Regions from separate parts of the Homo sapiens genome. Here region 2 is linked to region 1. Evidence: fine-mapped expression QTL. Tissue or cell type: whole blood. Region 1 holds a variant in brackets; the other region holds the start of a gene. All regions are shown on one strand. Distances are from middle to middle.

The links.
Region 2: MYBPC3 starts here. The variant in region 1 is fine-mapped to the expression of MYBPC3 in whole blood (INTERVAL, PIP 0.94).

What each region holds. Positions count from the first base shown.
Region 1 is chr11:47,372,889-47,378,252 of GRCh38, reverse strand. SPI1 (Spi-1 proto-oncogene) reads left to right here. Exons shown (of 5, transcript NM_003120.3): 2 at 2,524-2,620. Among named protein-coding and RNA genes, the nearest start is that of SPI1, 3.0 kb to the left of the region's middle. RefSeq lists enhancers at 1-59, 233-282, 953-1,152, 3,586-4,087. The variant C/T (reference allele first, on the strand shown) is at 2,451.
Region 2 is chr11:47,350,146-47,355,509 of GRCh38, reverse strand. It overlaps MYBPC3 (myosin binding protein C3), which reads left to right and starts at 2,808. Exons shown (of 35, transcript NM_000256.3): 1 at 2,808-2,887; 2 at 4,005-4,271; 3 at 4,895-5,008. The coding sequence starts at 2,863. SPI1 (Spi-1 proto-oncogene) reads left to right here. Exons shown (of 5, transcript NM_003120.3): 5 at 1-650. The coding sequence ends at 283. RefSeq lists enhancers at 3,184-4,164, 4,165-5,146.

The DNA.
Region 1 (5,364 bases):
CTGCCCACGAACCCGCCAGCCCACCCACTGCCCTCCTGGCTTGCTATCAGTGGGAAGTCAGGGTTTCCTCCCTGGAACTCCTGGCCTGAGACCCAGCGAGGGGGCCATTGGCTTCCTCGGAGCATGCCCTGGCGGGCTGAGGCCAGGCCCACGGTGGGGCTGTGATCGGTGGGGCCTGAACAGTTATTTATAGACAGGGCTCGGGTGGCAGGCGGAGGCCGGGGCTCCTGGGGAGGGTGCTGGGCTGAGGATGGTGAAGGCGGTGGTAGAGAGGTAGAGGAGGGAGATGGGGGGACTGGCTTGGGGGAGGCCGGTCCCCTGGATGGGAAGGGGTTGAAGGCAGGAGGCAATGGGCAGAAGTCTTGGCCCATGGCCTTGGGGCTCCTGGAAACCAAAGCTGATGGAACTCTGGGTCCCCAACGCCCAGTCTGGGGCCTGGCACAGAGGACATGATTGTTGACCAAAGGGTCAGGGCCATGGGCCCACAGGGGTACCCACAGGAGACAGGGACTGGTGCTGGAAAGGAGCCAGGAGTGGAGCTGAGACAGTGCAGTTAGGGCTGGCCCCAGGGCTGGAGTTCAGGGAGAGGCGCGGCAGGGGACAGGGCTGGGACAAGGCCAGGACTGAGATTGGGGCTGGGTGGGACCTGGGGTGAGCATGTGATAAGTGAGAATGGGGGCTGAGGCTGGGACAAGGACAGGGACTGGGTCTTGGGGGTGAAGAAGTGGGAGCCCCAGGGGACCCCGAGAAGAGAAGGGCAGATCGCCACTGCTCCTCACTCTCAGTGACAGTTGCAGCCTTAGGCAGGTGTCAGACCAGGGTCCCTCGGAAAGGACCCTTCTCCCTTTTCCCACCCCATGACCTCTCAGGAGTGAGGAGGCTTGAGGGGAGCCGGGAAGGGCTTGGCAGGCTGCCCACCTGAATCCACTTTCCTGGTCTAGAGGCAGCTCCCTTCCCCCACTATGCCCTGGCTCAGAGCCACCCCAGGAGGCTGGGAGGCACCCCAGGCCTGACATCACACCAACCCGACCAGAGCCGGGCTGACATCCTGCAGCGAGGCTGTACTACCTGGAAACCCAGAGGGGCAGGCTCAGTGCTGGGCTCCTGGCCTCCTCACTTGGCCAGCCACAGGCAGGACCAGGCAGGACCAGCCAGCCTGCTGTGGCATCCACACCGACACCCCTTCCCACCTGGGAACACGAAGTGGGCGGCCCAGGCAGAGGGTGACGGAGGTTGTCTCAGAAAGAGCCAATTCTGCCTCAAGAAAGCCACAGGCCCACTGTCTCTGATCCCTGACCTCTCAATTCTGAACTCCAGGTGGAGCTAGATGGGTGGCAGAGCTCCTTGGGCCATCCCTAGGCACCCCCAGCCCTCTCTGCAAGCTCCAGGGTCACTCTGAGTGTCTCCTGGTAGGGTGGGCTCCCAAGGCAGCCCCGGTCCCCCAAGCCCAGCCCTAAGGGCCACAGTGACTGTTATGCAATCCTGGGCCACACGCTGCGGGGGCGGGGAGGCCTGATGACTGTTGGGAAGGCTCCTGGGTGTGCACGGCCCTGTGTCTGTGCCAGTAGGGGGAGGAGGACAGGGAGGAGGGAGGAAGGTGGGAGGAAAGAAGGAGGACAGGGAAGAGGGGGAAGAAAAGGAGGACAGAGGGGAGTGAGGAGGGGGAGGAGGAAGCAAAGGAGACGGGGAGGGGGATGCAGTGAGGAGGGAAGGAGGAGGATAGGGAGGACTCAGGAGGGAGAGTGAGGGGATCAAGGCCCTCCATGCGCTCGGCCCCTAAGTCTGCCTGGGTGACCCCTGCACCAACCGTCAGTGTGGAGGGTCATTGTGGTGCCACTCTTGCCCAGGCTGTGTGAGAGGCATAGGCTGTGAGAGTGGGGCTGGGCAGGCAAGTGTGTGCTGTGCGGTTGAGTGTGCAGGTGGAATGTGAGTGGCTCTGGGGGTGTGAGTGTGTGTGTTGATGGCTGGAACGTGGTGTCATGTGAGTGTCAATCAAGGAGACTCTGCGTGTGTGCATGAGCTGAGTGTACAATGTCTCTGTGAGGTGGGTGACCTCTGAGTGGGTATGAAGATGTGTGTGTGAGGGATAGTGTGCAGGCGCCTGCATGGGGGTGGGTAGGGGCTGTGAGAGTGAGTCCTCGTGTGGGATTATGAGTGTGAGGGTGACACAGGGATCGTGTGGACATGTGCATCAGTGTGACCAGGAGAGGTGTGTGGGATGAGGATGGGGGCACACAGGCGTGAGTGTGAGTGTGAGCGTGAGGTGGCTATGGGGAGTAGCCCAGCAGAGGGGGACCCTGGTCCTCTTCTGACCTCTCACCCCCAAGGTCCCTGTCACCCCTTTTCAGGCCTTCTGGGTCCCCTGCCCCACTCTCTGTCCCAGTTCCAGGCAGAGGGAGGGCTGTAGGTCCAACGCAGCCACTGAGCCAGGGAAGGTGATGGGGACCCAG[C/T]GTGCGGGGGTGCTGCAGGCCTGGCTGGGGTCTCCCACCATGGTGCAGGCCCTGACACCTCCTCTCTCAGCAGCCATCAGAAGACCTGGTGCCCTATGACACGGATCTATACCAACGCCAAACGCACGAGTATTACCCCTATCTCAGCAGTGATGGGGAGAGCCATAGCGGTGAGTACGGGGCCTGCCACGCCCCCATCCCCCAGCCCAGCCTGGGCTCCTGGGGTCTGGAGAGAGAAAAAGAATAAATGATTCCCAGGACTTCTTTGGAATTCTGAGAATCAGATCAAGTTTGCTCTCAAAGGCAGTGAACTGCAGCATCATCGCTGCACCCCCACACCTGAGCCTCCATTATGGAGCCTCTGCAGTGTGTCAAGGTGCGGGGTTCATTTCTTCCATGGTTATCTGCTGGTTCTGTCCTTGTGGTCTTCTTTATAAACAAGGAAACAGGCTTAGGGTGCTAGGAGACTTGCACAAGGTCACACGGCTGCTGGGTGGAACCCAGGTCTGTCCGCTCCAGGTCCTGTGCTTTTTTTTCTGCCCCTGCCTAACTACCCACCTCCTCCTCTCTGTTCTCGTCACTCTCTGTCCCAAACTCCCCGCCGGCACATCCGCACTTCCTGCCATGTGTGGTTGGCAGGGTTTCCTAACTGTGGCACTGCTGACATTTTGGGTGGGATGATTCCTGGGTGGGCTGTCCCGGGTACCGTAGGAAGCTTAGTGGCATCCTTGCTTCTACCTACCACATGCCAGGGCCATGGCCAATCATGACAACCAAAAATGTCTCCACCCATTGGCAGATCCCCCCGGGAGGCAAAATCACCCCTAATTGGGAACTGCTGGGCCGAAGGAAAACCTATGAGAACCTCTTGTTCAGCAGAGGCCGAGGCCCCCAGTTTGCTGAAGTGGGAGGAAGAGGCCTGGGCCAGGGTGTCCTTCTGTCTGTCCAGTCCTTCTGGGTCTGACTGTCTGCCCCATAGCCCAGCCTCCGTCCTGGAGCAAATTCAGGGGATGGGAGAGAGGCATTAGGTGCCTGGGACCTGAGCAGGGGGCTGCGGGAGGTTGCCCAAAGTGGATCTTGGCTTATTGATGTAGACATCCCTGACCCAAAGCGAGGTGGCCTAGTCAGTGGGTGAGTCGTCACTGGGGAATTCCTCAGGGCGTCTGGGACCCGGGCAGACCAGCGACTGGGGTGTCTGCACCTCAGAGGGCAGAGGCCCACAGCCTAGGAAGGTGTCACTCCTGAAGGCCACCCCTGCGGCCAGTCATGCCTGTAGCTCCATTCTGCAGATGCACCTGTGGCGGTCTAAACCTGATGGGCCCAGCTAGGGATCCACATGTGCCTGGTCCACATTTAGGGCCCCAGATTCATCCGGAACTCAGACTGGAAGCCATATCCCAGGGGTAGGCGGATATGCCTCCAGGCCACAGCTGGGAACGCACAGGCATCTTTTAGAATCTTTCAGGGCTAGAAAGCCTTTAAAATATCCTTTTTAATTCCTTCAAGCTTATTTGTAATTATGTAAAAAACACATCCTCTTGGTGGGAAACCCAGGCAATGTAGAGAGAAAGTCCCCCTCCCCCAACTCCATCCCCAGCTCTCCCTACCAGAGTGAAGAGCCCGGTCTGGGGGACCCAGAGACCACGCACCCACCTTCCCAAGCGGTTCCAGGACTCCAGGAGGTCCCGCTGGGCCCTGGGACAGGCGCCCCCTGGTGGCTCGGGTCACCACAGACAGTGCTGTCAGGCCTCCTCCAACAAGGACGCATTCTCCCTGGCCCAATCCCTCTTCAGTTCACTGGGCTTGGGTGCGTTTCCTTTGGGCCTTTTGCAGCCTCAGTTTTCCTTCCTGTAATATGAGGGCGCTGCCCACATAGCTGGAAACCAGTGAGCCTGGGGCTGGGCCTGATGGAGTGAGCACTTTAGAGAAAGCATGTGTTTTCGTGGCTCAGGGTCCAAGCAGGTTCCTTATATCTCAGGTGGGACTCTAGGAATGACTCCTGATTGGATGCCTGGGCACCCCATGTTGGTCATGAACCCCTAGTTCCTCCAGAGACTCCACCAGTGTTCCCAGGTGTCCTCGGCCTTGGCTCTGTCCCACTCTTAATCACTGCCAATCAGGGCATTTGGGCTGTCCTTTTCTTTTTTTTTTTTTTTTAGGACAGTCTTGCTCTGTTGCCCAGGCTAGAGCGCAGTGGCCCAATCTTGGCTCACTGCAACCTCCGCCTCCTGGGTCCAAGCGATTCTCTTGCCTCAACATCCCAAGTAGCTAGGATTACAATCGTGCACTACCATGCCTGGCTAATTTTTGTATTTTTAGTAGAGATGAGGTTTTACCATGTTGGCCAGGCTGCTCTCAAACTCCTGACCTCAAGTGATCCACTTGCCTCGGCCTCCCAAAGTGCTGGGATTACAGGTGTGAACCACCGCGCCCAGTCTGTCCCTTTTTTTTGATACGGAGTCTCGTACTGTCGCCCGGGCTGGTGTGCAGTGGCACAATCTTGGCTCACTGCAACCTCCGCCTCCCGGATTCAAGCGATTCTCCTGCCTCAGCCTCCCAAGTAGCTAGGATTACAGGCGCCTGCCACCACGCTCAGCTAATTTTTTGTATTTTTAGTAGAGACAGGGTTTCACTATGTTGGCCAGGCTGGTCTCGAACTCCTGACCTGGTGATCCGCCTGCCTCAGCCTCCCAAAGTGCTGGGATTACAGGCGTGAGCCACTGCGCCCGGCCGGGCTGTCCCTTTTTATACCCGCTGGAAGGTATCGTCTGAAGACTCAACCATAGAGACCCCCACACACTTCTGTCAATTCCTGCACGTCCTCTTTGTCCACATTTTTAGGTACTGAAGCTTAGTGAAAAAGCTTTGGCCCAGCCCTGGCTCCATCACTTACCAGCTGTGAAAACTTGGGGCA
Region 2 (5,364 bases), 23 kb after region 1:
GGACCTGCTCCGCAGCGGCGACATGAAGGACAGCATCTGGTGGGTGGACAAGGACAAGGGCACCTTCCAGTTCTCGTCCAAGCACAAGGAGGCGCTGGCGCACCGCTGGGGCATCCAGAAGGGCAACCGCAAGAAGATGACCTACCAGAAGATGGCGCGCGCGCTGCGCAACTACGGCAAGACGGGCGAGGTCAAGAAGGTGAAGAAGAAGCTCACCTACCAGTTCAGCGGCGAAGTGCTGGGCCGCGGGGGCCTGGCCGAGCGGCGCCACCCGCCCCACTGAGCCCGCAGCCCCCGCCGGGCCCCGCCAGGCCTCCCCGCTGGCCATAGCATTAAGCCCTCGCCCGGCCCGGACACAGGGAGGACGCTCCCGGGGCCCAGAGGCAGGACTGTGGCGGGCCGGGCCTCGCCTCACCCGCCCCCTCCCCCCACTCCAGGCCCCCTCCACATCCCGCTTCGCCTCCCTCCAGGACTCCACCCCGGCTCCCGGACGCCAGCTGGGCGTCAGACCCCACCGGGGCAACCTTGCAGAGGACGACCCGGGGTACTGCCTTGGGAGTCTCAAGTCCGTATGTAAATCAGATCTCCCCTCTCACCCCTCCCACCCATTAACCTCCTCCCAAAAAACAAGTAAAGTTATTCTCAATCCATCCTCTTGCAGCACAGAGTCTCTTTTAAAATTTGTTGTGTATCTCTTTTGGCCCCTGTGTGCTGCGACGTCTCTTTTTGTCATTTGTCCATCGGGTGTTTACCGAGGACTGTACCCAATGCTGGACCCTGGGAACATGAGGACCAATGACACAGAGCGCCTGAACAGGAGTTAGAGTTTGGTGGAAAGAACAAGTCCTCAATTGTGATTAGGAGAGCAGATCCTATTTAAAAGCTCTCTACTCCTGATAGTTGTTGTTTTTAAGCCTTGATGAGGTTTGAACTCATGATGATGATGATGATGATGATGATGACCATGACCAGCAACAACATTTGATATTCTGGTCAATTAGTATCTGCCAACCTTGAGATGTGGAGTCTAATATCACTCCATTTTATAGAATGGGAAACTGAGGCTTGTAGAGGTCAAATTATTTCCCCAAGGTCACAGCCGTTGAGTGGCCAAGTTGGATCACACTCCAGGTCTGTCCCGACACGTCAACATGGAGTGGGAGGCCTTGCTTATCTGGAAGAGGATACTCTTCAGCATTCCGAGGACAGGAATTAAGCCCCAAAGCTCCTGTGGGCCGCAAAGGGTTCTCACGAGCTGCACGCCCAGCAGGACTTTAGACCCAAGTGAATCCCTGGTGGGACCCCCAGGTTCTATTTGCTTTCTAGCTCCTAGCCACAGCAGGGGAGAAACAGACCAAGCTGAGCGGAGAAGCCTGTAAGTCCTGTGTTTTCCTCCAGACGGTAGCAAGTAGTGGCAGTAGACAGCCTGGGAGTGAGGGACTTCCCAACGCTGTCAAAGACCTTAGGGAACCCAGATTCTGGGGCCATTATCGTAGGGACAAATACCCGCCCCACACCTCCTCAACCCCAGAGGGCTCACTGCAGCCCAACCCTGCAGCTCCCTAGTCCTACTGCAGGGCCACAAGAGAAGGCAAAATGGTGTTGTGTCTTCATTCTTCTATTTTTATTTTTTTTTTTTTGAGACAGGGTCTTACTTTGTTGCCCAGGCTGGAGTGCAGTGGCACGAACATGGCTCACTGCAGCCCTGACCCCCCGGGCTCAAGTGATTCTCCTGCCTCAGCCTCCCGAGCATCTGGGACTACAGGTGTGCGTCACATGCCTGACTGATTTTTGTATTTTTTGTACAGATGGGGTTTCATCATGTTGCCCAGGCTGGTCTCGAACTCCTGAGCTCAAGTGATCTGCCCGCCTCAGCCTCCCAAAGTGCTGGGATTACAGGTGTGAGCCACTTCGCCCAGCCCATTTTTATTTTTTTATTATTATTCTTTGAGATATTAATAATAAAAAATAATAATAAATAATATTTTTATTATTATTATCACTCTGTCACCCAGGCTGCAGTGCAGTGGTGCGATTTTGGCTCACTGCAGCCCGGAACTCCTTGGACTCAAGCGATCCTCCCACCTCAGCCTCCTGGGTAGCTGATACTACAGGTCCACACCACCACACCTGGCTAATTTGTGTGTGTGTGTGTATTTATTTTATTTTTTATTTTTTTAGTAGAGATGGGGTTTTGCCATGTTGCCCAGGCTGGTCTCAAACTCCTGGCCTCAAATAATCTGCCTGCCTCGGCCTCCCAAAGTGCTGGGATTACAGATGAGCCACCACACCCGGCCTAACATTTTTAAAATTATAAACCCACTTCATACGTGTGACAATCCTGTGCAGTGGGTGCTGCTTTCACCCACCCCGCTTTACAGATGAGGAAACCAGGTGCTTTGAGATTAAAGAGATGGCAGTGCTAGGACTCAGAGACACCCTGGCCCCAGGGTCTGTGGACATGACCACTGCCTGAACTGCCTGCGAGGATGCTCCTGACCCGTTAGCCTTAGGGTTATGGGCCCAGCATGCTCCCACCGTACAATTTGCTGTAAGAGGGACACACACGGGGCTTGGAGTACCCCTGAGGCTTGCCAAAGGTTGGGGAGGCAGAATTGTGCTGCGGGGGGTGAGGGGGGAAGGGACAGGAGCCAGCCAGGGACAATGTGGCCCTACCTTCTCCCTGGAGAGACCTCAGCTCTCTGGAATTCATCTATATTTAGCAGGTGGCTGGACAGGAGGCAGATAAGCAGAGCCTGGGGAGGGGGGAGGTCCCCATATATAGTGGGAAGGACAGGACCCCACTCAGTCCCTCTTTGGGTGACCTGTGCCTGCTTCGTGCCTGGTGTGACGTCTCTCAGGATGCCTGAGCCGGGGAAGAAGCCAGGTAGCTTTAGGACTGGGGTTGGGTCTAAGTGTGGGAGCAGGGGGGTGTCTACAATTGGGGAGCAGGGCTAGGAGGGAGTTCTTGAGGGGGTTGACGAGGACGTGGCCTCTGAGCCCCAGGACAGGGGCAGCCAGTCCTCCAGGGTCCTTTTTTGATTCTCGGTTTCTTTTTCCCATCCCTCTGATGAGAGGTGAAGGTAAACCCAAGGTCAGGGACGCAGAGAGGGGACACAGCCAAGACAGGAAGCACCCGGGGTCAACCCATTCTGAGAATGCAAAGGGACCCCTTCCCTGTCCCATTGCCTTCACCTTCCACAGCAAGGTTCCCCGCGGACAGAGCCCACGTTTAGTATGGAGCTGAGCCAGGCTCACGGCATGCCTTCAGACCAGTCTCTACCCACTATGGGTCTCAGTCTCCCAACCTGGGGTGCCGGGGGTGGTGGTGGCATTGGGTTGGTTCCTCCTGGCTGTGACATTATCTGCTTCATGAGCCTGTACGGTGTGGCCCCCATGTTGAGGGTGACACAGCCCCTCTTCTCTGAGAGAGGACAGTCAGGAGCCCCTGAACCCAGGCCAAGGGCAGGGAAAATCACAGCCCAGGGACCTGGGCCTGGGCTGTGCCCTTATGAAGGTTGTCCAGGGCAGAGATCCAGGTCCCCATCCCCCAGCGCCCTCCCAGGCCAGCTTTATCTCAGTTGCTGATACCCAGCCTGAGGTCCTTGGAGGACAAATTTGGCCACATTCCAAGTAGGCAGACTTCCCCGCCCCCTGCCAAGGGCCCGAAATGGTTGGGGGAAAGGGAGCTGGGTTCATCACGGGTGTCTCCAAGCAGGGAAAGTGGACACATGCAGAAAAAGTCTTGTTGGGAGGTCAGGACCACAGCCCTGGCTCTCCCGACTGCTAGCTGTGTGATCTTGGAGGAGCCGCTTAGCTTCTCTGAGCCTCAGTGTCCTCCTCTGAGAAATGAACAGAATAACTGCAACTACCTCAGAGAACTGGTAGAGTATTACGTGAGGGGATGCATAGAAAGTGCTAGCACAGTATTTACTGAGAGGGGCTGCAGGGGCGGGGTGCACGCTCCAACCAGGGGCCGCTGTAGCCTCCACCTGGCCCTTCAGTCTCAGCTTTTAGCAAGAAGCCACGGTCAGTGGAAGTGGCCGCAGGCAGCCCTGCCGTGTTCGAGGCCGAGACAGAGCGGGCAGGAGTGAAGGTGCGCTGGCAGCGCGGAGGCAGTGACATCAGCGCCAGCAACAAGTACGGCCTGGCCACAGAGGGCACACGGCATACGCTGACAGTGCGGGAAGTGGGCCCTGCCGACCAGGGATCTTACGCAGTCATTGCTGGCTCCTCCAAGGTCAAGTTCGACCTCAAGGTCATAGAGGCAGGTAAGATCCTGATCAGCCTTCCCTGAGGTTTGGGCTGCTGGGGGAGGGGCAGCCCAGCGACTCTCCATCCATCCAGGGAACAGGAGGTGCTTTCACACTTTCTTGCCTTTGCTGTGGCTGTGCCCCCCGCCAGGAACGCCCTTTCCCCCTTTTCTGCACATGACCTCTCTGAGTACCCCCATGTGCCATCCTGGCTTGTTCCAGCCATGGGGTAGGTGGGAGAGATGAACAAGACACAACCCCACTCTCCCCCTGCAGACCTCCCTGGGGAGATGACCCTGCACAGACGGCCGGGAAGCCCCAGGAGCTGTGGATGAGGGGAGTGCAGCCCAGTCTGAGGGGCTGCTCTAAGGCTGGGGCAGAGCAGGGATGGACCTGGAGCTGTTCAGGGCAGATGCAGAGGACATGGGAACTGATGGCCTGGGACGGGGAGGAGAATGTGAGAGGCAGGCTGGCTCTCCAGCTCAGCATGAGCTGCCTCTGAGGGGCCCAGGCAGCGGGAGGACAGCCATGGCAGACTTTCCTCATCCACAGCGGGCTCATGGGTCCAATGCTCAGGAGAGAGAGGGTGGAGGGGTCTCTGGTTAGTGGCTGCACCACGACTCCCATCTGATCCCCTCCAGAGAAGGCAGAGCCCATGCTGGCCCCTGCCCCTGCCCCTGCTGAGGCCACTGGAGCCCCTGGAGAAGCCCCGGCCCCAGCCGCTGAGCTGGGAGAAAGTGCCCCAAGTCCCAAAGGTGAGAGGGGCTGGGCAGGGAGGGGCAGGATCCGTGGGTAGGGCGTGTCCAGGGCAGGTCTCAAAAGCCTTTGCTGGGCCAGGTGCGGTGGCTCAGGCCTATAATCCCCAGTACTTTGGGAGGCCGAGGTGGGCGGATCATGAGGTCAGGAGATTGAGACCATCCTGGCTAACATGATGAAACCCCATCTCTACTAAAAATACAAAAAAATTAGCCGGGCGTGGTGGCGGGCACCTGCGGTCCCAGCTAACTTGGGAGGCTGAGGCAGGAGAATGGTGTGAACCTGGGAGGCGGAGCTTGCAGTGAGCCGAGATTGTGCCTCTGCACTCCAGCCTGGGTGACAGAGCAAGACTCCA